4 linked regions of the Homo sapiens genome follow. The protein of the gene in region 2 interacts with the protein of the main gene of each other region in a pairwise test. Each region holds a gene or a part of one and is shown on either strand. Other genes may lie near its edges.

The links.
Region 1: the proteins of BNIP2 (region 2) and FAHD1 interact in binary tests that used the Homo sapiens proteins (3 or more experiments, as listed by UniProt).
Region 3: the proteins of BNIP2 (region 2) and FAM3C interact in binary tests that used the Homo sapiens proteins (3 or more experiments, as listed by UniProt).
Region 4: the proteins of BNIP2 (region 2) and DHRS1 interact in binary tests that used the Homo sapiens proteins (3 or more experiments, as listed by UniProt).

The regions. Positions count from the first base shown.
Region 1 is NC_000016.10:1,822,463-1,830,236, reverse strand, and holds FAHD1 (oxaloacetate tautomerase FAHD1, mitochondrial), read right to left. Parts: upstream 3,032-7,774; 5' UTR 3,008-3,031; coding exon of another isoform or gene 2,999-3,007; coding exon 2,333-2,998; 3' UTR 1,327-2,332; downstream 1-1,326. Other genes in the region: HAGH (hydroxyacylglutathione hydrolase, mitochondrial isoform 1 precursor), read left to right, coding at 3,450-3,525, 7,200-7,372. UniProt on the Homo sapiens protein: Tautomerase that converts enol-oxaloacetate, a strong inhibitor of succinate dehydrogenase, to the physiological keto form of oxaloacetate. It is thereby required to maximize aerobic respiration efficiency by preventing succinate dehydrogenase inhibition.
Region 2 is NC_000015.10:59,671,673-59,679,723, reverse strand, and holds part of BNIP2 (BCL2/adenovirus E1B 19 kDa protein-interacting protein 2), read left to right. Parts: coding exon 1-132; intron 133-1,636; coding exon 1,637-1,813; intron 1,814-6,984; coding exon 6,985-7,087; intron 7,088-8,051.
Region 3 is NC_000007.14:121,385,974-121,394,024, forward strand, and holds part of FAM3C (protein FAM3C precursor), read right to left. Parts: intron 6,955-8,051; exon of another isoform or gene 6,895-6,954; intron 5,389-6,894; exon of another isoform or gene 1-5,388. UniProt on the Homo sapiens protein: May be involved in retinal laminar formation. Promotes epithelial to mesenchymal transition.
Region 4 is NC_000014.9:24,289,374-24,297,107, forward strand, and holds the end of DHRS1 (dehydrogenase/reductase SDR family member 1), read right to left. Parts: intron 7,509-7,734; coding exon 7,365-7,508; intron 7,216-7,364; coding exon 7,136-7,215; intron 3,412-7,135; coding exon 3,279-3,411; intron 3,228-3,278; exon of another isoform or gene 2,958-3,227; coding exon 2,811-2,957; exon of another isoform or gene 2,666-2,810; intron 2,253-2,665; coding exon 2,183-2,252; intron 1,847-2,182; coding exon 1,766-1,846; intron 1,623-1,765; coding exon 1,486-1,622; 3' UTR 1,225-1,485; downstream 1-1,224. UniProt on the Homo sapiens protein: NADPH-dependent oxidoreductase which catalyzes the reduction of steroids (estrone, androstene-3,17-dione and cortisone) as well as prostaglandin E1, isatin and xenobiotics in vitro. May have a role in steroid and/or xenobiotic metabolism.

The sequences.
Region 1 (7,774 bases), on a different chromosome or scaffold from region 2:
AATGTGTCAGCTAACAAGGAAAAAGATGGTCACAATATACAGTGAAATAAGCAAGTTAAATAATTGTATGGTATAGCTGGGCACGGTGGCTCATGCCTGTAATCCCAGCACTTTGGGACGCCCAGGCGGGTGGATCACTTGAGGTCAGGAGTTCGAGACCAGCTTGACCAACATGGTGAAACCCTGTCTCTACTAAAAATACAAAATTAGCCGGGTGTGGTGGCGTATGCCTGTAATCTGAGCTACTTGGGAGGCTGAGGCAGGAGAATCACTTGAACCTGGGAGGCAGAGGTTGCAGTGAGCCGAGATTGTGCCACTGCACTCCAGCCTGGGCAAAAAGAGTTAAACGCCATCTCAAAAAGAAAAAAGAAAGAAAGAAAAAAAAGAAAATTGTATGGTATGAGCAAACTCTATTTAAAAAATTACAATTATATCCACAGACTTGGAAGAACTTGCAATAAATGCTTAACTTTGGCTGTCTCTGGGTAGATGAAATTTTTGGTGTTTTGTTCTAATTGCTAATCTCTATTTTCTGACTCTTCTGTAATTACATGCATTGCCAAGCAATGAAAAAATAATACTAAAAGTAGTTAAGATAGCATGATACTTAATAAAGAAATCCAATTATGGCACTTCCTCATACTATATTATAATTTAAGCATGGGGTTGCAGCATACCTAAGTGTCTGATTCTTCTTATGTATCTACTTACAAGATGCAGCCTGCATTGTGGTCAAAACTTCACGTTCTGGTCTTGGGGGAGCTGGGTTACATCTCGGCTCTGCCACTAAGCTGAGTGACTTTAGCCAGCCTTCGCAGCCTCTAGATCTGTCTTCATCTGAGTAATGGGGATGGTAGTGATCATACTAAGCTTATGGCTTGGTTGCTGGTTACATAACACGTGGAAATACAGAATAAACTGCTTGGCATGGTGCCTAACAGTACTGTGTTCAATACATGGGGACCGTTACTACTCAATCAGATGTCCTAGGCTTTCTTCAGGGGCCAGCAGATGATGTGAACGCGAACAGGAACCCCTGCCGAAGCCCAAAGGACTCCTCCAGGCATTGACAGCTATGCTGTGCATCTTGCCTGGATGTTTTTTCAGAGGAGGGTGCAGGCAAGAGCAAAAGCAGCAGTCCCAGGCTATTCAACTTCCACAAAGCCTCCTTATCTCCGGTTGGGAAGTACAGTTGCTGATTAACTGTGTTAACACAGCACAGTGCTCAGAAGGCCAAAGGTCAAAGACTAAGGTCTGAAGCCCCACAAGGAGGAAATATCCCTCCTCGTCATTACTGGGGGGAAAAAAATTACCCTTGTAAGCCACTTAGAAGGGAGCACCTTTATTTGGAAAACAGTAATTTCAAAATCATCTCCCGAACTCAGAATCGATGGGTCTGGGTAGATACCCTAAGTAAACAGGTGAAATCTTCATTACTTGTTCACTTATTAAGTAAAATTTTAAATTAACCGATTATGTACAGGAGTGTTTTTCACATTTCCTGATAAGAATCACTTGGAATGCCCTGTAAACACAGCTTCACTGGAGATTAATCCTATCAAATTGATTCAGCAAGTCCGAGATGGGCCAGTAATTTGTGGAGATTTTTATTTTTACAAATGCTTCCTGATGATGACCAAATCTAAGAAAATTTGGTAAACAACGGAAAGTTATCTGGAACATAACTTTCAGTTTTCTCTGCAGTTTTTAAGTGCTGAACTACTGATCATCCTAGAGATAACCCACTGAAAAGTCTTCTCTAATCCAGTTTTACAAAAGGAAAGTCTTTTTAACATTTGGTTTGATAAAATGTTTTCCGAAGAAATACTTTACTTGCCTGTTTTCATTTCTGGCCCACCCGTTCTACTTCACGTTTTCTTGAAGGGTTCATCTTCTATGAGTTGAGGCATAGCAATCTAATCATTTTTAAAATAAATGGTTTCTTTTTTTTTTTTTTTTTTTGAGACGGAGTCTCGCTGTTGCCCAGGAGTACAGTGGCGCAATCTCAGCTCACTGTAAGCTCCGCCTCCCGGGTTCAATTGATTCTCCTGCCTCAGCCTCCAGAGTAGCTGGGACTACAGGCGCCCGCCACCACGCCCGGCTAATTTTTTGTATTTTTAGTAGAGACGGGGTTTCACCCTGTTAGCCAAGATGGTCTGGATCTCCTGACGTCGTGAGCCGCCCGCCTCGGCCTCCCAAAGTGCTGCGATTACAGGCGTGAGCCACCGCGTCCGGCCAATAAATGGTTTCTAATTAAAGGATTGTGACATTTAATAGCCGTTGCTTGCTCTTGTCTTGCTCCCTTCTCTCTCGAAACTTGTTAAGAAATAACTCAATATTCTGGCTTTTCCACTTTAAATGTCATACTGACCAGCCCGTGTATGCCAGCCTCGATCTCATCGTTTTCTTTAACCGGTCCAACTCCCTTTGGCGTCCCAGTCAAGATAATATCTCCTTCTTCCAAGGTTATGATCTTAGAAACATAGCTGATGATGTAGGGGATGGAAAAAATCATGGAGGATGTCTCACCCTCCTGTCTGAGTTCGCCGTTGACCTTGAGCCAGAGCTTCAGCTTGTGAGGGTCAGGGATCTTCTCCTTGGGCACGAACGCGCTGACCGGGCAGGACGCCGTGAAGCTCTTCGCCAGAGTCCAGGGCAGCCCCTTCTTCTTGCACTCGTCCTGCACGTCCCGGGCGGTCATATCCAGGCACAGGGCATAGCCGCCCACGTAGTCCATGGCCGCAGCCTCGGGGACTGCGCGGCAGCGCTTGCCCATCACCACGCCCAGCTCCAGCTCGTGGTGCAGGTTGCGAGTGTACGCGGGCATGAGGATGGGCGAGCCCTCGGGCGCGTAGGCCGTGGACGGCTTCAGGAACAGCACGGGCTCGCTCAACACCGCGCTGCGCATCTCCCTGACGTGGTCCGCGTAGTTCCTCCCCACGCAGACGATGTTCTTTCCCCACTCCCAGAAGCGGGACAATGGCCTGGATGCTGCCATGATTCCCATCAAGTGCCCCTGTAGTCACGTGGGCTGGGCCGGTCAGCTGATGCCTACGGCATCCCGGAGAGGACCAACTGCCTCGGAACGCTGTCCCCCGCAGCGACGGCCCGTTCCACCTCGCGATCTGCCGGGTACCCGGGCGGCGTGGCGCTCGGCCTCCAGGGATCCACTGTGCGGTGCCAAAAAAGAGGCGGAGGCTCGCGGCACAGCTCTCCCGGCGCAGCTCTCGGGCCGCCGCCGCCGCTCCCAGGCCCGTCTCCCGGCCCGTGGCAGTCGGGGCTCGCGGACAAAACAAGTTGAGCGCGAGCGCGTTGATTGGTTGGCGGACGGTGCGAGGTGGACGCTGATTGGCTGAGGGCAGCGCGAGGCGGGCGCTGATTGGCTGCGACGCGCCGACGCCGGTGTTTTGCAGTCCTGGGCAGCTCGGCAGTCCAGCCCGGCCCGGGTCATGGTGGTGGGCCGAGGGCTGCTCGGCCGCCGCAGCCTCGCCGCGCTGGGAGCCGCCTGCGCCCGCCGAGGCCTCGGTGGGTGCGGCGGGGCGGTGCGGGCCGGGGGACGCGGGCCTGGCGGGGCGGGCAGCGGGCGGCGCCGGGCCGTCGTTTGGCGACCGCTGACGCGGTGTCTGTTGCGCAGGTGCCTAAGGCCGCGCTGCCGGGCTCGAGCGGAGGCGGCGCAGGCGCTGAGGCTGGCGCGGAGCGGGCGCGGGGCCGCGGGTGCGGAAAGCGCTAGGTAAGCAGGGCCAGGCCTGCGTCCGCCGCGGCCTCCACGCTCGGGCTGGGCCGGCCGCGCCCCTGACGCCTCCAGGGCATCGCGTCCTGCCCGGGCCGGCGCCGAGGAGAGCCTGGGGCGCGGCTCTGAGGCGCAGCGGGCAGGGCCCCGGGACGCCTGGCCCACCCCGCACCTGCTGCCCCGCTGCAAGGACCGCGGTCTCGCGGCGCCGCCTGCGGTGGTGGAGCTGCCCGCCCGGCGCCGGAGCCCCCGTCTGGGGACCCGGCGTGTCATTCGCCCGAGGTGGTCGCGCGGCCGGGCCAGGCCAGCGCCCCGGGCGGGTGCGCAGCGCAGGGCACTGGGCGGGCGGAGGCGCAGACAGGGAGGCGTCCCTGGCGGTTTCCAGATCTCGCCGAAAGCTGTCAAGGCTCTGCAGGGGGTAGAATGTCGCCATTGCTAAGGAAAGGACATGGATTTTGAGGTCCTCAGAATTACAGTTTTAGGGACATTCATAAGGGTCCAGGCAGAGAGTTCCAGCGGGACTGTGTGCATCGGCAGGGCGTGCGTACCCCATTCTAAGGGAGGCCCCAGCCCCCGTATTTGGTGCCGCCCAGTTCAAGGGAAGCAAGATGCTGTGAAACTTCCTGATTTAAAAAAGAAGTGCAGTGACGCACGCCTGTCATCCCAGCACTTTGGGAGGCCGAGGCGGGAGGATCGCTTGAGTCCAGGAGTTCCAGACCAGCCTGGCAACATGTTGAGACCTCATCGCTACAAAAACTAAACAAAATCAGCCGGGCGTGGTGGCACACAACTGTAGTCTCAGTCACTTTGGAGGCTGAGGTGGGAGGATCGCTTGAGTCCAGGAGGTCGAGGCTGCAGTGACCCTTGATCGCACCACTGCACTGTAGCCTAGGGGACAGAGTGAGACCATATCTCAATTTTTTTTTGTTTTTGGGGCCAAACCGAACATGTTTCTGGACTTGGTCCAGGCCCCAGGCTGCAGGTCCTTGACCTGTTTGTACAAAGTATTACAGTTACAAAACAGCAAGCCGGGAACATTTGCCAGGCAGTGCTGGGCTGAGTGATATGGAAAGGGAATACGGTTTCTGCTGGTGTTGGCACCAGCTGCGTCTTTCCTCAGAAATAAAGGCACCTCCCTGGGTTGTCAGCTTCTTCAGGAGGCTGTGATGGTCTCCAGGGGAGGCTGAGCACCAGTTGTAAATGACATTTTCTTCGCCTGGGCAGTGCAGTGGCCAATCTCGGCTCACTGCAACCTCTGCCTCCCGGGCTCAAGCGAGTCTCCTGCCTCAGCCTCCTGAGTAGCTGGGACTACAGGCGCTCGCCACCACGCCCAGCTAATTTTTGTATTTTTTAGTAGAGACAGGGTTTCACCATATTGGTCAGGCTGGTCTCGAACTCCTGACCCCGCGATCCGCCCGCCTCGGCCTCCCAAAGTGCTGGGATGACAGGCGTGAGCCACCGCACGTGGGCAGTATTTTTGTTTGTAATGTTCTGCTCCTTGTTTGTAATGGAGCTCCTTTCCAGGAGGACGCCCGGCACTCGGAATCCTGTCACAACCCTTCTGCACCCCACCTGCAGCCCCCAGCACCCACACTCTGCTTGTTGTGCTCCTTGGGCTGGGGTGGTGCTGAGGCTAAGGGGAAGGGGAATAACACAGGAAGCTGCTCATATAGAAATCTTGGTATTATTGTTCCTGAGGAGAATGATCTGGAAAATGCCCAGCTGGTTGTCAGGCGGGTAATAGGATATCTTTGTGCAGTGATTGAAACTATAGTTTGGGCAGTTTCCCCGGCTGTGGAAATAAGGTCGGATTCCGCATTTCGGTGGGCCCTGGAGACGCGTGTGTCTGTCAGTTGGTGGCTGCTGCCCATTTCTGGATCCCTTTTGGGAGAAGCCCCTGCCGTGGCACCTACCCCAGGACTGCACTGTCCTCTGCCACCTTCTGTGGTTTCTTCCCCGTGTAGAGCGGAACTGAAGGTATTGTCGGGGCCCCCAGGTATTTTTAGATTTAGTAGGAGTTTCATTGCTGAAAATATTTTTGCATTGGTCGACTGGGTGGCAGACACTTTTGTCCCTTGGTCACCCACTCCTCCCAGCTCTTGGGCCTTCTGGGCCCCTGTGGCAGAGTCCTTTGGGTCAGTTGGATGGTGGTTTTGTGTCCTCCACACTTGAATCTGGGGGCAGTTGTGGCCAACTTTCCGTCTCAAAGGAACTGCTGATTTTTGTGCATATCTCAGATTCGTGCTGTTCAAGAGCAAGTATTGTTTGTTTGTTTTTTTTTTTTTTTGAGACTGTCTCACTCTGTTGCCCAGGCTGGAGTGCAGTAGGGCGATCTTGGCTCACTGAAACTTTCACCTCCCGGATTCAAGCAATTCTCCTGCCTCAGCCTGCCGTCAAGTATTGGTTCTTTCTGGCTAGAGGCTGAGAAGGGCTGTAACTGCATGGAACGCAGGCTCGCTTAGTCAGTGGTGGCAGCACAGCTTGCTGGAGGGCAGATGGCCAGGCGGGGGCACCCCTAGTCTGTGTTCCCTTCTTCACATTCTGTCCCTGAGTCCGGGGTGTGAATAATCCAGCACTGGCAGTGGTTCGCCTCACAATCACAAGCTGGCCTTCCTGTCCTTTTAGAGTTCTCAAAAAAGAAAATAGAGATCGTAAGTCTGAAACAATTGATTTCCATGAATGTGAGCATGAGTTAGTTCCTGTGTTCTCCTCAGGGATATATGAAGATATTCCTTTTTTTTTTTTTTTTTTTTTTTTTTTTTAAGGAACAGGTTATTGTCTTGTCACCCAGGCTGGAGTGCAGTGGCACAGTCATAGCTCACTGCAGCCTCAAACTCCTGGGCTCAAGTGATCCTCCTGCCTCAGCCTCCGGAGTAGCTGGGACCACAGGCATGCACCACCATGCCTGGCTAATTTTTAAATTTGCAAAGACAAGGTCTTGGCTGGTCGCGGTGGCTCACACCTGTCATCCCAGCACTTTGGGAGGCCGAGGTGGGCGGATCACAAGGTCAGGAGATCGAGACCATCCTGGCTAACACCATGAAACCCGTCTCTACTAAAAAATACAAAAAATTAGCCGGGTATGGTGGCGGGCGTCTGTAGTCCCAGCTACTCAGGAGGCTGAGACAGGAGAACGGCGTGAACCTGGGAGGCGGAGCTTGCAGTGAGCCGAGATCGCGCCACTGCACTCCAGCCTGGGCGACAGAGCGAGACTCCGTCTCAAAAAAAAAAGAAAAAAAAAAAGACAAGGTCTTGCTATGTTGCCCAGGCTGGTCTCAAACTCCTGCCCTCAAGCAGTCCTCCCATCTCAGTCTCTTAAAGCGCTGGGATTCCCGGCAAGAACCACCATACCTGGCCAGAATATTCCTTTTCAAAGGAACCTAGAAAGGCTGGGAAGCACTGCAGCTTGCGCGTCCTGTCGTGGAGGGCCTGGCGCGGCTGCCCGCTGAGTTGTGCTCTGTGTCTGCAGGTCCAGCCCTGCTGGGAGTTTTCTGCCACACAGATTTGCGGAAGAACCTGACCGTGGACGAGGGCACCATGAAGGTAGAGGTGCTGCCTGCCCTGACCGACAACTACATGTACCTGGTCATTGATGATGAGACCAAGGAGGCTGCCATTGTGGATCCGGTGCAGCCCCAGAAGGTGCGCATGGCTGTGCCTGGCTCTCCCTGCCCTGGTCACCCAGCTCGGAGTCCTCACCCCCGATGGGTTTCCTAACCGCAGTGTCCTTGCAACTTTGCCTAAGCTAAATGGAAATTAGTCTCCGGCCACTCTGTTAACAGGGCTCCAAGAAGGGTGGAGGCGAGAGGCAGTGACACAGAAAGCGCTGTGCAGTACAATCCTGGGCACTTGAGTCTTCTTGGGGGCTTTCTGCCCCTGCATGCTGCCTCTGGGGGTGGTGCCCTCAGAGCTGGAGGGGCTTGGAGCGGTCGTAGGTGGTTGCAAGAGTGTCAGGCTGAGCAGGAAGGAGAAGGTGCTTTCACTGGCTCTCCTGGAGCAGGGCAAGCTGGCAGGGTCAGGACGGGCCATGTCAGCGGCCCCTCA
Region 2 (8,051 bases):
CTCCAGACATTAGCCTGACACTGGATCCTAGTGATGGCTCTGTATTGTCAGATGATTTGGATGAAAGTGGGGAGATTGACTTAGATGGCTTAGACACACCGTCAGAGAATAGTAATGAGTTTGAGTGGGAAGGTAAATGTTTCACTGTTTTTAATCTGATCTTTATTAATGTACTAAGGGATTTTGTTTGAAATACATCATTCTTTCTAAAGTTCATATATTTGTTACTAAGATAGGAAATTGTGCTAACCCTTGAATATTCTCAAGGACTTAAAAAGTGTGTATAGAGTACACCAGTGGCTTTTTTCCCCTCTTATTTGCCCACTGCTCTCATGTTTTTTTCATAGCTGTTTCAAAAATATTTCTTGATAATTATGGCATGCTCTTTTTTAGTCAATCAAGTAAGAAACTTTTGAAGAGACATATAGTTAACAGTTTGTGGGAAGGGAGTTCTGAAAGGAGGCATTTGGGGTGACTTTTTAAGTAGGTTTGCCTGACATTGCTCTACTTTGTGAAATGACCAACTTAAATTAATGTATACTTTTAGCCCCCGAACCTAGTATTCCTTATTACTTGTAATTCAAAGGAATTGTGCTGTTTTACTTTGCATGCTTTCTTTAATTACAAAATTGTCTACAGTATCTTATATATAGTTGTTATAATTTTTACATATTTTTTTCCATCTTGAAAATGATTTTGTTTTCATAGTAGTGTTTAGCATTCAGTATTTTACTGTAATAAAGTGTGATATGCTATATTTTTGGTTTCTTTTTTCTTCCCTGTTTTACTGGTTCAATAAACAGTCCAGTAGTAAGCAATACTTTGTAAAGATACTGAAATAGTTTTGTGCCTATGTGTTTTGTCTCTTCTTTCTTTAATGCTGCTGTAGTCATTTCCTGGAAGGATATTTTCCGTTAACAGCTTTGTCTTGGAAACAACTAACATGCAGTAGGTTTCCCCCTCCCCCCATCTTTTGGTAAGGACTATAATACTGAAATTTTGAAAATTATTACTACATTGAAAATCAGCTAAACTGCAATCTCAAAACATAAATTACACTTAATCATTGGTGCTTATGCTTTGGCTAATGCTAATTTAAATAGACTTCTGCATGTATACTTCAAAGTATTATAAATACATTTCTGCTTTATAAAACTGATCAAATGAGAAGTGATCATTGAGTAGTTAACCACTTCCTATCTGGTATTACAGTTAATTTATGTGCTCAACAACAACAAAATTGGCTCCCAGATAGCTACTTGAAGTAACCTATAGTCATAACTGCCAGGGAGAATATTGTCACAAGTTGAATCTGGAAAGGCATTGTAAGGCCAGTGTACTAAGATTTTGATGACTCTACAAATTATATTTTCTGAACTTGTGGATACACGTTTCACTATGATTAGGTGGTTTTTGCTAAATTGGGCAATAAAAGTTAAAGAACCATGATTTCCAAAGACATAAAACAGCCTCATGTTAAGAATAAGCCTTTTCCTCCTTTATGGAAGAGAGATTGAAAATTGTGCAGATGGTATAATGAAAATTCTCTGTAAAATCTAGGTAGTAAAGTGGTTAACGTATAATTTGATTTTTGTTGTGTAACAATTTGTGATTCAAAAACTTTGTATTTTGACAGATGATCTTCCAAAACCCAAGACTACTGAAGTAATTAGGAAAGGCTCAATTACTGAATACACAGCAGCAGAGGAAAAAGAAGATGGACGACGCTGGCGTATGTTCAGGATTGGAGAACAGGACCACAGGGTTGATATGAAGGCAATTGAACCCTATAAAAAAGTTATCAGCCATGGGGGTAAGAGTTACTGAGGATTTTTCAGATTGTTTAATGCAATATCAGAATTCTTTTTTTTTTGGAAGGATATCTGTTTATTAAGAGTAAATAAGCCCTGTACAGAACACAGGCGCTAGGTTGAGAGACTCGTCTTTTGTAGGACATTTCTTCCTGCTAACCAGTTCCTGGAGGGCTTGTTTTTTTTGTAACTTTACACAAGGGGCACTAATGGAAAATATAGCTTTCTCAAGACATCTGATGTCAGTTTCCCATTGTTTTGCTTCACAAACATCAACAAAGTAAACCTGAACATGCTTAGCAATTTCCCAATGTTCTTTGCTGACATTACTTTTGACATACTGTGTCAAAATTCTTAAGGTCTCCCCTCCTTTGGTAAAGTAGGCAAAACCTTACAAGGAAAACACTATAATACGTGGAAATATACTGAGTTAGATTTCCAGTCACCTGCTCTATGGCTCTGAGATGCACTATATCCATAATGGTTCCTAGGACTGTGTCCACCTGATGGTTTGGAGTACGGAAAACCAACCCTTATGGCTTAAGAGTCATCTCCCATGGAAGACGATGCTGGCCTTCTGAACGCTGGGGCTCATGGGCTTGTTGATGTGGCTTTCTGGTGTGCCAGGATCCCCTGGCAGCTCCTGTATACTTCAGTCAAGCAGTCCAGCCGGGGCTTGGCACTCTGGAAGACGGGTACTACTTGGGATATCCCATGTGGTTCCACTGGATCCTTCAATAAGATGCAGAGGTAGTAAATCACCTTCTGCATGTAAATAGCCTCATTGATGACAATATCCTTGACCTTGCCCATTTCTATGAAGGTAGTGCTTTCTTAGCCTGAAGCATAAGATGAAGTCATCTGAATGCCAAGGGAATCAATGATTAACAGTCTCCTGATCAATCTTCACAAAATGGAGATAACCAAGCAGACCTAAGAGGGTGATGAAGATGGCAGCAGAGAGGATCATGCTGTTCTCGCAGAGGGTGAAGAGTCCGTAGGCTGCCAGCCACACCGTGCAGGTGACAGCGGTGAGCGAACGCAGCGAGAGCCCAGGGCAGCTGAGGCAGAATTCCCGGCAGGAAGGGAAGTAGTAGCGGCGCTGCAGGGCCAGGCGGCCACCGCAGATATCCGAAAAGCTCCGCTCATCCTCCATGACACCCCAACTCTGCCGCCCGCACCGCACCGCGCGGCACTCCACTGCGCTCGCCTGCCCTAGCCGTTTCATGCAATATCAGAATTCTAAATACTTTTAGAAACTCTGCCTAGAGATATTATGTAATTTTGAAAGAATAATAAGCATTTCTCATTCATTTTAGAAACATGACAGGTTTAAAGTAAAAGAATAAAAGTACCATTTAAAAATGATTATATGCATACAGTAAGTTGAAAAAGTACAAAAGAATTTGTAGTGAAAACTGTCAGGTTGGGCACGGTGGCTCAGGTTTGTAATCCCAGCAATTTGGGAGGCTGAGGCAGGAGGATTACTTGAGCCCAGGAGTTCAGGACCAGCTTGGGCAACATAGACCTCGTCTCCACAAAAAAATAAAAAAAATAAAAAAATAAATAAAATTAGCCAGGAGTGGTGGCATATGCCTGTAGTCCCAGCTACTTAGGAGGCTGGGGTGGGAGGAGAGAGAGCTTGAGCTTGGGAAGATGAGGCTTCAGTGGCCGTGATCATCCCACTGCACTCTAGTTTTTTGTTTTGTTTTGGTTTTTGACCCTGTCTCAAAATTAAAAAATTTTTTAAACTGTCTCTAGGCTACCCAAAACTGGGACTGAACAGTCTCCCTAATTTATAAACAGTGAAATGCTCTGATCTTAAGTGTGCAGTTCAATGAGTTTTGACAAATGCCTATATAACCATATATACCCATATATATAAAACCCATACCCCTAAAAATGTAGAACATTTTCATTGTCCCAGAAGAATTATTTAGTACCCCTGTGCAATGAATACTCAGCTTCGGTAGCCACTGTCATATCTACCCCCTGATTAGTTTTGCCTCTTCTAGAATTTCATATATAGTAACTAAAATCATCCTATGCACTCTTTTGTTTACTTTTCAGCATGAAGTTTTTGAGATTCATCCATGTTGTTGCACGTATCCACAGTACATTCCTTCTTATTGCTGAGTAGTTTTCCATTGCTTGGATAAACCATAATTTGCTTATCCGTTTTTTTTTATGTGCATGTGAGTTGTTTCCAGCTTGGGCTGTTATAAACAAAACTGCTTTGAACATTCTTGTAGAAGTCATTTATGGATATAAGTAAAACTTGGACTCTTTTTGTTTTGTTTTGTTTTGAGACAGAGTCTTGCTCTGTCACCCAGGCTGGAGTGCAGTGGCGTGACAGCTCACTGCAACCTCTGCCTCCTCGGTTCAAGGGATTCTCCTGCCTCAGTCTCCCGAGTAGCTGGGATTACAGGTGCACGCCACCATGCCCAGCTAATTTTTTGTATTTTTAGTAGAGAAAGGGTTTCACCATGTTAGCCAGGATGGTCTCGATCACCTGACCTCGTGATTTGCTCACCCCAGCCTCCTGAAGTGCTGGGATTACAGGCATGAGCCACCGTGCCCGGCCCTAAAACTTGGACTTTTTAACCTTAACTCTTAATTTGCCTTAAAACCGTGAACAAATTTTTTTTTCTTTTTTTTTTTTTTGAGATGGAGTCTCATTCTGTCACCCAGGCTGGAGTGCAGTGGCGCAATCTCGGCTCACTGCAACCTCTGCCTCCCAGGCTCAAGCGATACGCCAGCCTCAGCCTCCCAAGTAGGTGGGACTACAGGTGCACGCCACCACGCCTGGCTAATTTTTGTATTTTTAGTAGAGACGGGGTTTCACCATATTGGCCAGGCTGGTCTCGAACTCCTGACCTTGTGATCTGCCCGCCTCAGCCTCCCAAAGTGCTGGGATTACAGGCATGAGCCACAGTGCCCAGGCCAAATTATTTTTTAATAGAGAACTAGTTCACTCCACACTTCTATACAGCACCCACTTTCCATACTTATGGGATATACAAAAATACAAGGCTTAAGTCCCTGCCCTTAAGAAATAGGAAAAGCCATAAAAGTTTAAGTTATAAATCCTTTCAATCTAACAGTACCATATATAGAAGTTAACCTAGGCACATTGTAAATAGTGCTAGAATGTTAGTGGTAAGTCAGAACACAACTCACTGTAGAGCATGTCATACTACCTTAAATCCTCCTAACACAGGACGGAGGGCATATGGGTCAAGCAGATTGATTTTTTTTCAGGGTCATTTCCACTTGATTTACTCTCTGCCAGATGCATTCCCCTGCTTATTTCTACAGTCTTCATTCATCTGAAAGCAAATCACATGAATATTTGTAGTTGCATTCTTCTGCCTAATTTAATCGTACTCAGATGAAGAAAATGGCGTAATCTGCATCAGGAAGTCCACAGACATACATTATTCAGCTAGTTCACAGGAATCAAATTATAAGACCTGATTTATGGCTTAAATCTCTTATCTTTCAGAAATAGCACTTTTTTTATAGGGGAAAATAAGACCACCTTATTTTATTGCATTACCACACTTAATATATTTTGTGACTGAGTGATTAAGAAAGGTAGTGAAGATTCTGATGTTCTTGAAATGTTCAAATCTTTTCATGTGCAAATTTGTAAGCAATAGAAATGAAGGTTAAAGCAGAAGTATTTGCTACTAAATATTGGCTTAATATCTAAAGACTGCTGTTGAAACATACATATTTTAGCGCTGTTTTCCATTACTGAAAATTATGTCAGAGATGTAATTTAGTTTGTTTTTTTGTTTTTGTTTTTGTTTTTTTTTTGAGACCCAAGTCTTGCTCTGTTGCCCAGGCTGGAGTGCAGTGGTGCAGTCTCGACTCACTGCAACCTCCGCCTCCCAGGTTTGAATGATTGTCCTGCCTCAGCCTCCTGAGTAGCTGGGACTACAGGTGCACACCACCACACCCAGCTAATTGTTTATATCTTTAGTAGAGATGGGGTTTCGCCATGTTGGCCAGGCTGGTCTCAAAATTCCTGGCCTTAAGTGATCTGCCCACCTCAGCCTCCCGAAGTGCTGGAATTACAAGCATGAGCCACCTCGCCCGGCCTAATTTAGTTTTAATGTCCTAATTTCTACAAAATGCTAGCATTTTTAAATATAAACTTACCTTTTAAAAATCACCCACTTATGGCTCTGGCGATGTGGCTCATGCCCAGTGCTTTGGGAGGCCAAAGGAGGAGGATTGCTTAAGGCCAGGAGTTCACGACCAGTCTGAGCAACACAGTGAAACCCTATCTCTACAAAAAAAATTTTATAAAGGTTAACCAGGCATGTTTGTGTGCGCTGTATCCCCAGCTCCTCTGGAGGCTATGAGGTGGGAAGATCCCTTGAGCCCAGAAGTTCAAGGCTGCATGAGCTGTGATTGCGCCACTGCACTCCATCCTGGGCAATGGAGCAAGATGCTATCCTCTAAAAAAAAATTTAAAAAAGCACCCACTTTGCCGGGCACGGTGGCTCACGCCTGTAATCCCAGCACTGTGGGAGGCTGAGGCAGGCAGATCACGAGGTCAGGAGTTCGAGACCAGTCTGGCCAACTTAGTGAAACCCCATCTCTACTAAAAATACACAAAAAATTAGCCGGGCACGGTGGTGTGCGCTTATAATCCCAGCTACTCGGGAGGCAGGAGAATCGCGTGAAGCCAGGAGGCGGAGGTTGCAGTGAGCCGAGATTGTGCCACTGCCCTCCAGCCTGGACGACAGAACGAGACTCCATCTAAAAAAAAAAAAAAAGCACCCACTTTAACCATAAGCATCATAGAAATAAATAAAAATACATTGCAGTTATTGTATTGTGTCTGTATTGTATTGGGTTATATCACTATATTTGTCTACCTGCTAAAATAGGGCTGGCTTTTTAAATATGCGAATTTAAGTGGTCTTGGGTTTTTTTGTTTTTTCTGTCCACCGTCCTCTTTAAATTTTACTGTTCTCTTTTTGGGAAGAAGACATTAAAATTCTATATAAGACCATATAAGATTTACAAAACATACATTTAATACAGAAATCTGTGAAAAGTAAACTCTTATTTATAATTTACTAATCATACAGATGTCTTCTAAAAATGCCTAAGAGTAAAATCGTGCTGGTGATACTGTCTTTGGTTTCTTTTTTAGGATATTATGGGGATGGATTAAATGCCATTGTTGTGTTTGCTGTCTGTTTCATGCCTGAAAGTAGTCAGCCTAACTATAGATACCTGATGGACAATCTTTTTAAGTAAGTATATATTAAACAAAAACATTTGGACAGAATTGTGAGCTAATTAGATCTACACCTTAAGAAACTTAACCTTTTCAAAAATTATAAATATTCCAGTTCTTTGGGAGACTGAAGTGGGCAGATCACTTGAGTCCAGGAGTTGGAGACCAGCCTAGGCGATATGACAAAGCTCTTTCTCTACAAAATCAAAAAATTAGCCAGGCATGGTAGTATGGGCCTGTAGCCCCACCTACTCAGGAGGCTGAGGTGGAAGTATCACCTGAGCCCATGAGGTCAAAGCTGCAGTGAACTGTGATTTTGCCACTGCACTCTACCCTGGGTGACAGAGTAAGACCCTGTCTCAGAAAAATAAATATCCCAGATCTTTTCACGTGCAAGTTTGTGAACAACAGAATGAAGGTTAAAGTAAAAGTATTTGTTACTAGATACAGGACTAGATGAGTCCTTATTCTTTGATATTATGGAACGATAGTTTTCCAATTCAAGAGAAAAATTGTCATTTTAAAACTGGGAAATATATCTCAGATTATTTGTTCCAACTTTGTTTCGTTTTGTTTTGAGATGGAGTTTCACTCTGTCACCCAGGCTGGAGTGCAGTGGTACAACTACGGCTCCCTGCAGCCTTGACCTCACGGGCTCAAGCCATCCTCCTACCTCAGCCTCCCTAGTGGCTGGGACTGCAGGCACATGTCACCACATCCTGCTGACTTCTTAATTTTTGGTAGAGACAGAGTCTCACTATGTTGCCAGGGTTGGTCTCAAACTCCTGGGCTCAAGTAAGCCACCATGCCTTACCTGTCCCAACTGTTTTATGTTAACATTTGCAGGCACATTAAGTGTAAAGAAGTGATTTTTGTCTCAAAATCATGTGGCTAAATTACATTTACCCCTAGAAGGCCAATATAATTGAGCCAAATCAGTTCTTTTTCCACAAGGTCATTCTATTTCTCAGGTTAGTGCA
Region 3 (8,051 bases), on a different chromosome or scaffold from region 2:
TCCACTTCCTTTTCACTCCAGCTGTTCACTGACACACTCTAATATAAGAGGCTTGTTGACAAAATGTCATGCCAATCAACTTGGCTTTTGCAAACTGCTTTGGGAATTGCTACAAACTACCCACTCCAGCAATTCAACAGTATGGCAAAATGACTAAGCTTGGGTATTGGAACCCCTCCTTGAAATGGAAATGATACAAGAAAATTAAACGTACAAATACACCCTTTGATGTACCTACTTAATATTAACAAACAGCACTTAATTAAACCACAGGAAAATACCACAAGTTATCCTCTACAAATAGAGAAACTATCATTCAATTCAATCCTACTTCAACTCAGTGCTGGACAAATGACAATTTTAACCCAACCAACTTAGAAAGTTCCCATGATTCTAATAATAAGGGATTCTAATAAGTAAGGGAGAATTCGCCTTCTTTGCCTATCTTTAAACTGAGACAATGCCTTCAGACTCAGACCAGACTATACCATTCATTCTCCTGGACTGTCAGAGCTTGCCAACTTGTCAGATCTTGGACTTCTCAGCATTCATAATCTCATGAGCCAATCCCTTATAATAAACATATACACACACACACACAAACACGCACATACAAATCATATACCTGTATATAAATGAAGCTATCTCCACATGTATTATAAGGAATATATGTCTATATATCTAGAGCTATATCTATACATACACACACACACGCACACATATATATATATATATATATGTAATTGGTTCTGTTTTTCTATAGAACTCAGACTAATACAGACCCCCTCAAGAACAGAATGTAAAAAATTAAATTTTTATCCCCAGAGCATTTAAAGTAAAAGAGAAAAATGAGATAATACTAAAATCAAAAGAATGCTACAACTCAAAGAGTCACTAGGGTAGGTTACTCCGATGTTGCATTTACAAACAAAAGCATGGTATTTTTTAAAAAATACTGTGTTTGCTATAAATAACTACTTTTATGTGAGTAAAACAGGGCAACTGTTGGCAAACTCTTTCTATAAAAGGGCCAGATGGTAAATATTTTTAGGCTTTATGGACCATACAATCTCTACTGCAATTACGCCACTCTGCAGTTGTAGCTAGAAAGCAACCATAGCCAACATGTGAACGAATGAGTCTAATTATATTCTAATAAAGCTTTCTTTATAGACACTGAAATTTAAATTTCATAAAATGTTCATGTGTCACAAAATTATTCTTTTGATTTTTTTTCAACCCACTTAAAAATGTGAAAACCAGTTTTGGCTTGTGGGCCATACAGGCCTAGGGGTTGTACTTTGTCAACCCCTAATAAAAAGAAATAAAAATATAAAATTTAAAAATAAAGGAATAAACATCTTTCCCAACCAGGCTCTAACAGTCCAACTTTTTTTGCTGGGCTACGTGTAGGACATACAACTTCCACATGGCTTTGACAGGTCCTCTTAGAAGTACTACTACAGATGTAGGACAGATGAAACAATCCTAATTTCTGTGCTCCACACGTGTTCATCAAACATTTTCATAATCTGCTCTCCACAGAAAGAAGCATAATTCCATGAGAAACAACAGAATGGATCCTCTTCAAAAGGAAGAAAAAAGTCCTTCCCATCCTGTAGATGAAGCTATCCATCTATAGCAAAGGTGGAAACAAATCTAGATGCTGTTATGTTTCCAAACCAATCCCAGGAAATGTAAAGAAACCAATAAAAATTAATCTCACTATATTACACTTCAGTAACTATAAAAATTATGTTCTTGGGAAAAAACTTACATTACTATTTCCTTTATGTGGGTGTTTATATGGGATTATTTTTATGATAGGTTTAAAAAAAGAGTGAAGTAAATGTGCATCTAATGCTTAACAAACTTCTAAAATTCCAAATATTTAGCTTTAAAAAACCTTGTCTTTAATAACAAGTTATTACTATTGCACATGCAGACGGCTGTCAAGTACCCTGTCTCCCCTGAATGCAACTATACACACATCTTTGCAAAGCTGGCTACATTTTTGAAATAACAAAATGGAAAGGAATAAGATGACTGCATTCATTTGAAAAAATATTAACATTTAAAAACTCAGTAGGATATCTGAGCTGCTATCATTGTGTTAGAAATATTGTAAATTTAACAAAATTTGGTGTTTTTAACACTAAAGGCTTGAAAGAAAAATCTAGTTACTAACTTGAGAAAGTATTTAATACTAGCAGGATACCGAATCCTAGAAGGTACACTCTTTTAAAAGAAACCACCATTTTAACACACACACACACACACACACACACTCACACACTCCTGTTGTACAGCTTCAGAGGTGGGTATGACTTGATCACAAATAAAGGGAGATTTTTACATGACTACCAGCAACTAGAAAAGTATCCCAGATTTTTAAAGAATCAAGCTAAACTCACATTTTGAAAAGGGAAAAAAAGGAACAAAAACAAAATTGGGGGTGTGGGGAGAGGTGATCCATATGAATTCTATAATACTAGGAATGACAAATTTTTCAAAAGATCACCAATGATTATGATGTAAATGTATCCACTCCTTCTGCAAAGTGTCCCCCAAAAAGCAACAGACCAAAAACTTATAAACAATGGGTCAAGTGAACCAATAAGAGTTTTAAAATAAATGTTTAATGTTCTATTGAAAATCTTGGGAAAAGAATACAGATGATCTATGCCTAGATTTTTGACAGTTTTCTGAATCAACATCATCTGGCTTTTCTTATTTTCTTAAGTAGCATCATATTGAAATTACATTTAAAAGAGAACATCTAAATGTGGCTAAGAAACAGAAATAGAATTAGAAGTATACTATGGAAAAGCACAAATGAGCCAGAAAGTGTTTTTAAATTTCCCCTAGAATGTTAACCAATGCCAGATATGAAGCAAATTGGGATTATACTAGGCAAGTTCAGCTTTCCTCCACAATCCACCATAAACTGCTCTACCTTGTTTTTCATTTGGCGCTCCTGACAGTGAATGGAGAAAAACACTTCGGAAAACTTCTATCTACAGCAATTTAGATAAAACTCCATTCTTCTAAGAATGAAATTGGTAAAATATAATACCTGCTTCTCCCTCCACTTAAAAACAGGTTAGCAAAAGTGCTCAGCTAAATCATGAAAGTGCCCCATCTAGGCCAACTTTTACCCAAAGACTTAGTGTAGGGAGAGGCAGCCAAGCCTGACAGGCCATACACACTACATTCTGAGAACATAAGTATTCCAACATGATTCATCTCAATGTTAAGAATTTCATAGTACAACCCCCTTAAATCAATGTGAATTAGCTAAAGAGACCTACAGTTATTCTTTTCAGAAATCTGGTATTTAGTGGATCAACAAGTATTTAACCATGTCTTCCAAAAACACTTCAAGGAGCTAAAAACTAAATGGATCTGAGCTCTTCTGCTCCTCTATACCCAAATATAACATGGCTAGGCAACTTTTTCCTAAAAAAGATATTTTGTTTTCCAAGCTACTACTACTGAAGGAAGCACCTTAAGCAGGTGGGGTTGCTCTTCACTGAATTCTCATTAATGGGGAAAGATTTGTTCTAACCTACAGATAAGCCCTCATTCAGTACCCAATATGCCACTACAGCATTTCTGAGTTGGCAGCCAGAGTTCAGGTTTACACTGACACAGATTTGGTGTTTACCCCAAATATTGCCATTACATCCTACCACTACTCAGTACAAGATGCTATGCGGCTGGTATATATGTGTATAATCACCTAGCTGGCATTAATGAGGGCTGTGGACTCTCTAACAGGAAAGTGGCAAAAAAAAAAAAAGGTAGACATCAAATGATTATGCCACACCTTACTATTTCAGTGGACTATAATTACAAAACAGGAATCACTGAAGTACAAGGAGGATAGAAATCAGACTTCTGAACTGAGCCAGCAACATCTAAATGACTGGAAATGAGTAGGATGAAATTAATATGGGGCCAAACTGGAGTCTATTACACCCCCATATACACCTAAGTTGCATTTTAAAACAAAGTCATCAGTACAATTTTCATTACAAATAGATGTCAACTAAGGACACCTTATATAAACTCCTCATTGCAATCAAATAATTTATATGGTAAAAGATCTGAAGAACTGTTGCTTTGTAATTTTTTAAAATCTCATATCTGCTATGCTTCATAATAACCTGTTAAGATAATAAGAGGAACCTCTGGTTGCCAGGCACTTAATACCCTATTTATTTTAACTAAACTCATTTTGCATCTTGCTTCCCTCATTTTAACTAAACTCAGGATAAGGCTTACAACCACATTTTTATTTCTTAGTAGTGAAACCACCATTGCAAAATTATAACTGAAATGGTGAAAAAGATCTGACCTAACCAACTCCATCTTGCTTCTAACCTCCAGGTTGTCCTTGTTCATTCCTGGGCATAGGCCATAACTTTGGGAGGAACTTAGTTTATAGTTTAAAACAAAGATGGTAACAGCCCTTTCCCAAAACAAACCTCCTTCTTGCCTGGGGACTAGACTGCCTTTGTAGGACTAACAAATTAGCCACAAGATTGGAAATTAGGGCTTAGGAGTCATGCAGCTGAAAGCTACCAGATTCTGACCCTTACCATCTGTGGCGTCATAGATTCAATGAAACATCATATGTTCTTTGAACCTCTTACTACAGGGTTACCTATAGCATGCACACCAGAATTACTAGTGTGTTTTTTAAAATGCAAACTCCTGAGCCAACTGCATACCTGGAGAATCAGAATCCCTAGGAGTGGGATTAAAGCTCTTGCATGTTTAATAAGCTCCCCAGATGACTGTCATTCGTGCTCAGATCTGAGAGCTTCAGATCTACAGCACACCAATCCACACACACAGGAAAGGCTGTGTGGGGCGGGGGGGGGGGGGGGGGGGAAGGTAAGGCAGATCTAAACCAAAAAAGTTCAAAAGTAAAATTCACATGACAAGATTTTTCATTCTTTCTGGAACAGTCAACCTGCCACCAGAATGGGTCTTCAGTTTTGGTGGGCAACAGATAAATCCAGAGAAAATGTGGTGAGGAATAAATAATCAAGAACTCCTGTTTGCAGGGGTTAAACCAGAGTACTAGATTTAATATTACTCAAATGTTTTCTTGCAGTTTTTATTATCTACCAAAGCAGAATTTTGCTTAAAAAGTTATAATCCACTTAACGAAATGAAATGGTGACTGGATTTCTGCAACCAAGACCACAAACATACCCAAAACAGAAAACAAGACAGAACTCTACAAAATGACATTCAGTTTTGCCTGCTATGAGTTCTACAATTGTTTAAACACTTGTGATCTAAGCTACCTTAATCCTATAGTACACCATCCAGGGAGAGATGGATAGATGAATGAATGGATGGACAGAAAGAAATAGCTATTCTTAGAAACAATGACAACAATAAAATGAAATATATTAACTGTTAGAGGTTGAACATAAATGGGGTAATGAAGTGTCCCACTCATAAACTGCTAAAATGAGATTAGAGAAAGGTACACATTTACATACAGTAGAACTGCTATCTTCATCTCATGTAACTATCTCACATTGTACTAGATGAGAAGTTATAGGTTCCTGTTCTACGTGTTTAAGAATTCCCTTAGGTATCCACTCTACTTATGCTGTTTTGAAGTAGTCTGCAGAATTTAAGTGCACCAGGGTAGACATAATTCCATCAGTCACACCCTCCAAATGAAGACATGGAGAAACAGAATGGTTCCATCGCCCAAGGGTCCTGGATGAAATGCAGTATTGGCACACCATTTGTACCACAAAAACTGAATGAGAATTAGCACTGCTGAAGTAAATTAAAATGGAAACCATGCCTGAAGAATCCCCGAGCAGACAAAACCAATTAGGCCTCATAAGTGACATCAACCTCACTTGATTTGCAAACATAAGCAAAATATGAAGTTACTTCTTATAAATGCCTATGCTAAAGAAAAAGAGAACTTAAGCTTAATCAATCAGAAACATCCAACAAACTTCTAATTACATATCTAGGGGACCTTCCAACACGACAGACCAAATAAAACAACTGTATAACTGCAGCCAATCAAATATTTTCTTTGCTTTACATCTGTGACCCTCCTATAAAAGCCTCCCTCCTGGATTCCCCTGGTGGAGCTCCCAGATCTGGTTTGGAGCTGCTCAATTCATGAATTGTTTGTTCAAATAAACTCTAAAGATGCTTCTATTGTAAAATTTTGTGAAAACGTATTGTATTAGTCCGTTTTTGCACTGTTATAAAGAAATACCCAAGACTGGGTAACCTATAAAGGAAAGAAGTTTAACTGACTCACAGTCCCACATGGCTGGGGAGGTGTCAGGAAACTTACAATCATGGAGGAAGGCTAAGGGGAAACAGACACCTTTTTCACAAGGCAGCAGGAGAGAGAAGAGAGAGAGTGCAGGAAAAACTTCCATTTGTAAAACCATCAGATCTTGTAAGAACTCACTGTCACGAGAACAACATGGGGGAAGCCGCCCTCATGATGCAATCACTTCCCTCCCTCGACACACAGGGATTACAATTTGAGATGAGATTTGAGTGGGGACGCAGAACCAAACCACACCACGTATCAACTGAACCAACTTAAAAATCCATTTTTGTTGACCTTGCGTCTTTCAAAACTCATTTAACAATCACTTAACTGCAAGTAATGAATGATATGTTAGGTAGCACACCTGACACCATAACACTACCTTAGCAAGCCTTGTAGAGATTATGACGAAAATCAATTTAGAGATGTTCATATAACTTTCTGAATAGCACACAAAAATTTAACAAATGAATAAACAAAATGCAGTACGTATCAACGAAATGATATATATGTAATGTGGTGTATATGAATGGAATATAGAATGGAATATTACTCACCCTTAAAAAGGAATGAAGTACTGATACCTGCTGATTTAGAGGACGAACCTCTAAAACATGCTAAGTGAAAGAAGCCAGACACAAAAGAACACATATTGAATTATTCAATTTTTAGGAAAATCCAGAATAGATAAATTTATGGGGGCAGAAAGCAGATCAGTGGTTGCCGAGGATTGGCAGGGAGAAGGGAATGAACAACTGCTTAATGAATATGGGGTTTCCTTTTGGGGTGATGAAAATGTTTTAGAAACGTGACGGTTCATAACATCATGAACGTGCTAAATGCCACACTTTAAAATGGAAAATCTGGCTAGGCATAGGGGCTCATGTCTGTAATCCCAGAGCTTTGGGAGGCTGAGGTCGAAGGATCACCTGAGGGCAGATTTGGCCAGCCTGTGCAAAATAGTAAGATCCCGTCTTTTAAGAAAAAAAATTATAAAATTAGTCGTGTGTGGTGGCACATGCCTGTAAACCTAGCTACTCCACAGGCTAAGGTGGAGTTCAAGGCTACAGTGAGTTATGATCACACCACTGCACTCCAGTCTGCAGAACAGTGGGGTACCCTGTCTTTGTAAATAATTTAAAAATAAAATGAAAAATTCTGTTACAGGAATTTAATTTAAAAAAGAAAATTGGAAGAAAAAACTCACTGAAGTTAGAAAAATCATGAATAGCGGATTTTCAAAATTAGATTAAAAATAAGGGAAATATAAGAATAGCTTCAATCAAATGGAGCAGGCCAATGAAGAAGAAAAAGAATATTAATGGGTACACTGGAAAGACTTAGGGGTATTACAACACTTAATTTCCTCCTCTGAGAGGAAGTCAGCCGATTGTGTCTCAAAGAATTGCATTAAAAGAAAGTACAAAACCTTTTAAAAGTTCAAAGATTTTGGGAAATTACCTGGTTCAGTCTACTCAATCAGATTAAAAAGGACTGCATGATATTAAGTAATTTAGTCAATGCCACTCTTGAAATAACTAAATACAGAATCAATGCTTCAAATCCTGATCATCTGATCCCAAGAACAGAGACGCTTCTGGACTAAATTCAAGACAAACTTTTGCTATTATACCAAGGTCGCACAAAAATCTATCTAGCTCAGCGCTAACATAAAAATCTTTTGCTATTTGGGTCTTGCACCTTTCAGCTTTAA
Region 4 (7,734 bases), on a different chromosome or scaffold from region 2:
TCCTCAACCTCCCAAGGACTGAGATTACAGGTGTAAACTACTACGCCCAGCCCCATTGGTGGATTTTAATGATGGCTGTGGAAGGCTGGAGGTGGTCCTGAGGCCCATCTTCTTTTTATACCACATAGGCAACTGCCTGTGCTCCTCATCAACCTCAGGAGATAACAGGAATTTAGGCTGGTAAGTGGAAGAGGGTGAGCAGGTGCTGAGGGAATCTGATCACTGTGATCTGCTGCCACAGCAAATGGTGGCATTTAGGCACACAGTTCCAAAGGTTCTATACCAGTCACGTACTGATAAGCCAGCCCTCTCTCTAAAAGAAAGCTTTGATTGGTAGCATTTGTGGACTTTCATGGGACATGTACTGTCGCCATGGCTGATTCAAGACACCACATGAAATCACTGAATGAGGACTTAGAAGAGATGTGCATCAGAAGCTCTCAGAAGCTGGTGAGCCACTCCACTTACCACTGGAACAGTAACTGGGGACGGTCCCCAGAAAGCCACAGGAAGACTTCTGCCAATCTTGTGGGCAGCCTGGGGAAGCCTCAGCTCTCACTCTGAAGATTTTGAATAAGTAAAATGATTTATGTTTCTCTGATTTATGGCAGCCATCCCATCACTTTGGATGGTTATCTAGGCTGTCCGGTGGAAGGTTCCCTCAGAATAGCCCTTGGCTCCTCTTAGGAACACACCCCATTGCCTTGCCTCAGGCTAGGACAGCCTCTTGCATAGGCAAGGCAGCTCTATAGGGCTCATGCAATTAGTTCTGCAGAAAGCAATTCAGGTAGAACCATCCCGAGAGGAAGGATGAGAGTTGTCGGTGTCACAGCTATTCCTCTGTCCCTCACTTGGATTCAGGCAGTACCTTCTCCCCAAGTTCCAGGAAATCATGAACACCAAGGAATCTGCCTTTGCTGGACTGGGCCTCAGCCAGAGATCAGGCCCAGCTAGAAGGTAGCAGGCATCCCTGAAGAGATGGTGGAATGGGGGTGGAAAACCAGTGTGAGACTGGATGTGCCCACTTCTAGCTGTGGAGCGACTCTGCTCCTCAGCTGGGGCATGGGAAACAGGTCTTGCAGGGCAGAGCAGGAACAGTTCTGGAGGAAAGGGGTCTTGTCCTGGGGCAGAACCCCTTGAGAAGCTTCACATTTATACATCTTTGAGTCTTTCTCCCAAATTGTTAACATGTTGCTGAGCAGAGAATCAGCAGTCAAAAACACATTGAAAGAGAAATGAGACTTTTATTAGCTCCAAGAGCATTTTTCAATACTAAGGCAAAAAGTAAAAAGAAGGACAAGGAAAACCAAGGCACAAAGAAGGGACCTAGGCGCACCCCAGAACTCACCACGGACACACAGCAGAGGGCTTCTCTTCATATCAAGGGTATGGGTAAACAAGAAAGGCTGCTGTTTCACTGAGACAGGACGAACCACCAAGTCCAAATGAGAAGACAAGCAGAGACGTAGTGTCAGACCAGGAGGGTTAGAACTTGCTAGTGTAGAGGGCAATAATCCACTTGGGCACACGGAGGAAGGAGGGCAGGTAGGAGGCCAGCCAGCCCAGGCCGGACACGTGTGAGAGAACAGAGCTCAAAGACAAATAGTCTTGGACGGGGCGGCCTGGGAACAACAGGAGGAGGAGGATTAGATTCTCATTTCCCACTCCTCAGATACCCTCACCTTGGCTGGAGAGACCGAGGGAGGAGTGGGCAGGGAACAGAGGGAACAGCAGTCAAGGCTGACTGCTGTGCCAGGGTCCTCACCGTCCACATCCCGAAGGCCATAGCGTCGAGCAAGGTCACAGGATGGCAGCACCTTACCACTCAGGCTCAGGATATTGGGATCTGCGGGCACACAGACAGGTGGAGATGGCAGGCAGGGGAGTATGCAGAGTGACAAGGTTTGGGCCCAGTTGGACAGGGCACTGCTGAGAGCCCTGGAGCTCAGGATCCCTGGAGAGCTCTTTCTCTTGGGCCTTGGACTTTTTCCACACTTCCCAGGAGCCTGCTCCTAAGGCTCTCAGACCTCAAACTGGGAATGCTGACCCCTTGGGCCTCAAAAAGCAGAGAAAAGAATGACATGTTCCTCAACCAACTCCCGAGCCAGATCTGGGCACTGGATGCTACCGCACTACACATCCTCCATGCCCTTTCTTATTACCAGCTGCCCCCAAACTTCACCTGTTGCCAAAGCCACCACACATTTGCCACTCAATTCTGTGGTTTCCGCAGATGAGAAGGCTGATTTGAACTGAAACACAGGGGCAGAGAAGTGAAGGGTTAATTTCCAAGAGCACTGCCCAGGTCTCCTCCCCATTTCAACTTCTGTTCCAGGAGAAAAAGACCAAAGACCAAAGAGGCCAAAGACCTCAAGCAGGGCCTGTAGGACCCAAAGTATTGGCAGGTGCCAGAGCCACTCCTCCCCACATCCAGGTGAGCCCTGTGCCCTGGCACCAGGATCTGCTGTCTTTGCTAAGTGGAAGGATCTGGTAGTGCCAAATAGTGTTTGGACCTTCTAAGCTAGCTGGTGTGGGGGTCAAGTGCATGGTCTTTGGAGCTAGACAGCCTTTCCACTTAGGACATATGTGACCTTCAACAAGTTTCTAAACCTCTCTGGGTTTCAGTTTTGCCATCTGTAGAATGGAGCTGGTATCTCCCTTACAGGATTAAAGGAAATAATGTGTGTCCCATGCTCAGCCCTGCACCTGCCACAGTAAGCACCTGGTGAGTGGGAGTATCTGATCTTGTTATTGAGGATGCAGAGGCCGACTCCCCTGTTCTCTGCTTCCTTCGCCCTCCCCTTGCCAACCTGCTTCAACACAGGATCCTGCAGGACCTCCTCCTTTGCCATATGCTCCTTCAGCAGTTCTGTCTGCACAATCCCCGGCCACAGAGACACACAGCTGACCCCATGGCGCCGCAGCTCGTGGGCACAGTCAGCAGCCAGCTTGTCACACTGTGGAGAGGCGGAAGGCAGGGTAAGAGCCACCTAGCCATGTCACTTTCCTGCCCTGCCCTCTCTGCTTCTACTGTGAATGCTCCACCCACCCTGTCCTTCCCAGGAGCCCCAAGGTCTCAGCTGCCCACGCTCCCCAGTGTGATGCCTACTCTAGCCAACCAAGAGGAGCACAAGCAAAGGAACTGTCCATGGATGAGGCAGAGGAGGAGCTGAGAGGAGCCAGCCTTACCATTCTGACCACTGGGGATTGTACCTCCTGAGCTATAGGTAACATCACTGTCTTTTACCTCCTCAGCTCCTATGCCACTGGGTCCTCACCGCAGCTTTGCCCACACCATAGGGGACATTGAACATATACTGCAGGCTTCCTGGGGAGGAGATGACCACGATGAGCCCCTGGCCAGCTGGTACCATCAGCCGTGCCCCATACACTGAGCAAAAGTAGTGGCCTCTAGAAGGTGGGGCAAGGGAAGAAGGAATGAACCGTGTTAGTGCTGGCCTGGGTGCCACAGCCTCTGGCGGCTTCCCCTGCCTTCTGGTGGTTGTTGTCCACTAGGAAGGCTACACAGGGTGGGTTAGCGACCTGAGGAATTAGGGGCTTGAGGCCATATTCTGAGAGGAAAACTGGTCAAAATAACCACTGACAGATGAGAAACAGCAATCTTTGGAAGAAGAAATGGAACGCAAGAGCCCTGTCACAATAACAATTACAAACAAAATTGTTCAGGGGGAGAAAACTTAAGAAATGTATAGTGTCTACATAGAAAAACTATAAAACCATGACAATAAGTACAGACAAAATCTTTCAAAGCTAAGAACTGACATGTAAATCATCATTTCTATGTAAATCAATCCATAGATTCAGTCAAATTGGATTATAGCTCAATAAGACCTTTTGGAGGAATTGATAAAATAATCTAAAGCTCAATGAGAAGAATAAACGTGAGAACAGCCAGAAAAGCTGGGCACGGTGGCTCACGCCTGCAATCCCAGCACTTTGGGAGGCGAGGGGGGCAGATCACTTGAGCTCAGGAGTTTGAGACCAGCCTGGCCAACGTGGTGAAAGCCCATCTGTACTAAAAATACAAAAATTAGCCAGGTGTGGTGGTACGTGCCTATAGTCCCAGCTACTCGGGAGCCTGAGGCAGGAGGATCTCTTGAGCCCAGGAGGCGGAGGTTGCAGTAAGCTGAGATTGTGCCACTGCACTCTAGCCTGGCTGACAGAGTGAGATTGTCTCAAAAATAAATAAATAAATAAAAAGAAAGAGAACAGCCAGGAAAATTCCGAAAAAAGGACTAAAAAGACTAATGTCTTGTGGGTGAGGGGGATTGCTTTCCCTACCCCTGCTGTCACCCATATTAAAATGCACAGGGGCCAGGCATGGTGGCTTATGCCTGTAATCCCAGCATTTTGGGAGGCTGAGATGGGAGAATTGCTTGAGGTCAGGAGTTTGAGACCAGCCTGGCCAACACAGCAAGACCCCGTCTCTAAAAAATAAAATAAAATAAATTAAAATGTACAAGACATAATAGTTAAAAGAATGCAATACAGGTGTTAACAGTAGACTGATAAGTCAATGAAACAAAACAGAGAATAATTAGATACAAGTGTATGTGAGAACGCAATGTATTACGAAAGGAACCTGTCAAATCAGTGGGGGAAAGTTGGATCATTTGGGACAACCGACCAGTTATTTGAGTTAGGGGAATTGGGTCTCTGCCTCGTTTATTATTTTAAAATTAAGCCTAAAAGGATCAAATATTTAAATATAAAAAACGAAAGCACAGAAGTACTGAAAGAAAACATGATCAAATGTGTTTATAAACTTGAGGGAAAAGGCTTTTATTAGCGTCACACCAAGACAGAAACTATAAAAGACTGACAGATTTGACGTAAAATTAAGATACACACACATACACACACAAATACAAAGATACATGTATATTTCTGTGTATATAAAGAGCAGGGCGAGGCTGAGTATGGTGGCTCATGCCTATAATCCCAACACTTTGGGAGGCTGAGGTGGGTAGATCACTTGAGATCAGGAGTTCGAGACCAGCCCAGCCAACACGGTGAAACCCCGTTCTCTACTAAAAATACAAAAATTAGCCAGGCGTGGTGGCAGGTGCCTGTAATCCCAGCTACTCGGGAGGTTGAGGTATGAGAATCGCTTGAACCCAGGAGGCAGAGGTTGCAGTGAGCTGAGATTGCACACTGCACTCTAGCCTGGGTGACAGAGCGAGATTCCACCTCAAAACAACAACAACAACAACAACAACAACAACAACAACAGACGAGTGGGGGGAGTATGCGTGTGAAAAATGAGTGATAAATTGGGAAAAATATTTGTAAAATAAATGCCAAAGTCATTTGTTTCACAGTGATCTCTTATAAATTAATGCGAAAGTCAAAGATGATTTACAAAAGAACAAAGAGCCAATAAACAAAGGGGAAAAAAAGTTCAACCTGACAAATAGTGGAAGAAGTATGAATTAAAACCCCTTTATATATTTTCGGCTTATTATAGTAACAAAGCTTGCCTGAGTGCATGAGCTGACGCTGCCTGGTGTGGTAGAGGACATGGGGAAACACATATTCCCCTTCATTGTCTTGATATAAAAAATTGGTAGGGTCTTTTTGTAGGAGAGCTTGATAATATTTATTAAATCTTTAAAAAGTACATATTCTTTGTTTTCTTTTCTTTTTTTCTATTTTTCCCACAGTCTCTATAACCTAAGGGAAGTACATATTCTTTGATCTAAGAATTCCACTGCTGCAACAAATAAGGGATTAGAGAAATAAATGATCATACATCCTCCCAATAGAATACGTACAAGTATTAAAAAGAATGAGAGATATTTACATGAAAAATCTGAAAGAATATATGCCAGGCTATTAATAGTAGCTATATATCAGGCAAGAGAGCAAGGGATGGCACTGAGGGGAATAAGATTATACTGGTCTTCAGATTTTTTCCATATTTAAAAAAAGTAACACACACATAACTTGGTAACCAGAATAAATTTCTTTTGCATAGGGAAAGAATTAGGACCTTCCAAATGAAAACAAGTAGAGTTATAGTTTTAAAGGAAAGTGCAGCCCAAGGTAATACAGAGGAAAGGCAGTAAATGCGCATGGGGAATGGGTGGGCAGGAGGTGCTGGGGGGCTGTCAGGGGCTCATCAAGGGGCCTTTACCTTGGATAATTCATCAGGGCCCAAGGTCGAGGGTCTGGGCCTCTGCCTTGAATCTCTGCTTCAGGGTCAAAACCCTGGCCAGCAAGAGATGAGGGTGTGGAAGGCACCTCTCTTTGGAGGCTATGGTCATGAACACTGGCCAATTTCCAGCTCTTAACGTGTCCCTTTCTTGCCTTTGGCCTCACCATCCTCCTCTGTCCTAATGATCTTCCTTCCACTTTGGAAATCACAATTGCATTCTAATCCTGCTTCCTTGGGATTGTTACCAGAGTACCAAAATTGGAGCGGTGGGTGTTCTTACATGCTTTAGTCACAGATTTGCCGATAATCTCGTGGTTACTCCCACAGGTGACTGATCACATCCATCAGGCATGACTTGATTATATGAGAGTGTAACATCATTCCAACAGTAACAGAGGCATAACTGGTGTGCATTATGCTAGGCGAATTCTAAATGCTGTGTTTCATCTCACTCCTGGGCTAAATGACCCTGTGTGACCCAGTGATGTACCTGCTCTCCCAACTCTGACCCGGCAGTGCCCTTGCCTGTGGGTGTGGAGTGAGGATGTGGAGACTAAACAGCATTGGTGTTCGCTCCTTCTTCTTAAGCTTCTCCCAGTCTAAAATAAAACAATTTCTCCCTCTAACCATTTTGAAAGTATAGACTACAGGCTGTGCGCATTACTGAGAGGAGGAGGCTTCCTCCCTTCTGGGTCTTGCATTTGGATGGGCAGAGAGTGAGACAGGAGAGAGGCCAAGGGCTTGTTCCAATGAAAATTACTGACAGAGTTGACATTCTCAGGTACAGACTCACCTGGATGGAACTTCTCCAGAGGTAAGTGGGACAAATGGAATGGAAGGGAGAAGAAAGAGATGGGGGAGGCCGGAGGGAAAAGGAGAGGGCATGTAAGGAAAGGCCTGGCCGTCGAGTTGGCTAAGTGAGTGAGGGAACATGGGTCCTGGCAGTGGAGCACCCACCTGAGTCCGACGTTGTTGATATCATCCCACATGGAGGCAGGGGTTTCCCAGAATGCCTTATTCCTGGTGTTCAGGATCGTCTGGAAGGCACAGGGAGGGTGATGAATGATCTGAAGGTAGGGAGGTGTGAGGGGCTGGGTAATGGAAGGGACAATGAGTGGGGATGAAGATGCAGGGGTCTGAGGGGGAGGTCAGAAATGTGGAGTTGGGAACAAAGTTCAAAGGGTACCTGGACCCCTGCATAAGCATTGTTGACCAGCACATCTAGACGCCCTTGCTGTTCCCGATCCACTTGCTCAAACAGGCTTCGCACTTCACTCTCCTGGCTTGAATCGCACACCACAGGCACACATTGGCCCCCGAGGGATTGTGCCTGGAGTAGGACAGGGGATATGAGCTCACATTCACACATGGGTGTGAGTCATGACAAAACTCCCCAACCAAAGTGGGCTTGAGAACTGAGAAGACAATCAATCCTAGGAGAGCCTGCTGCAGAGGCAACATGGCAGGCAACGCTGCCCTCTGGTGTCTGTTTGAGTAGTTTCAGGAATGATAGGCCTCCCCACCACAGAGCAAGGTGAATTGCAATGTAAGTTTTA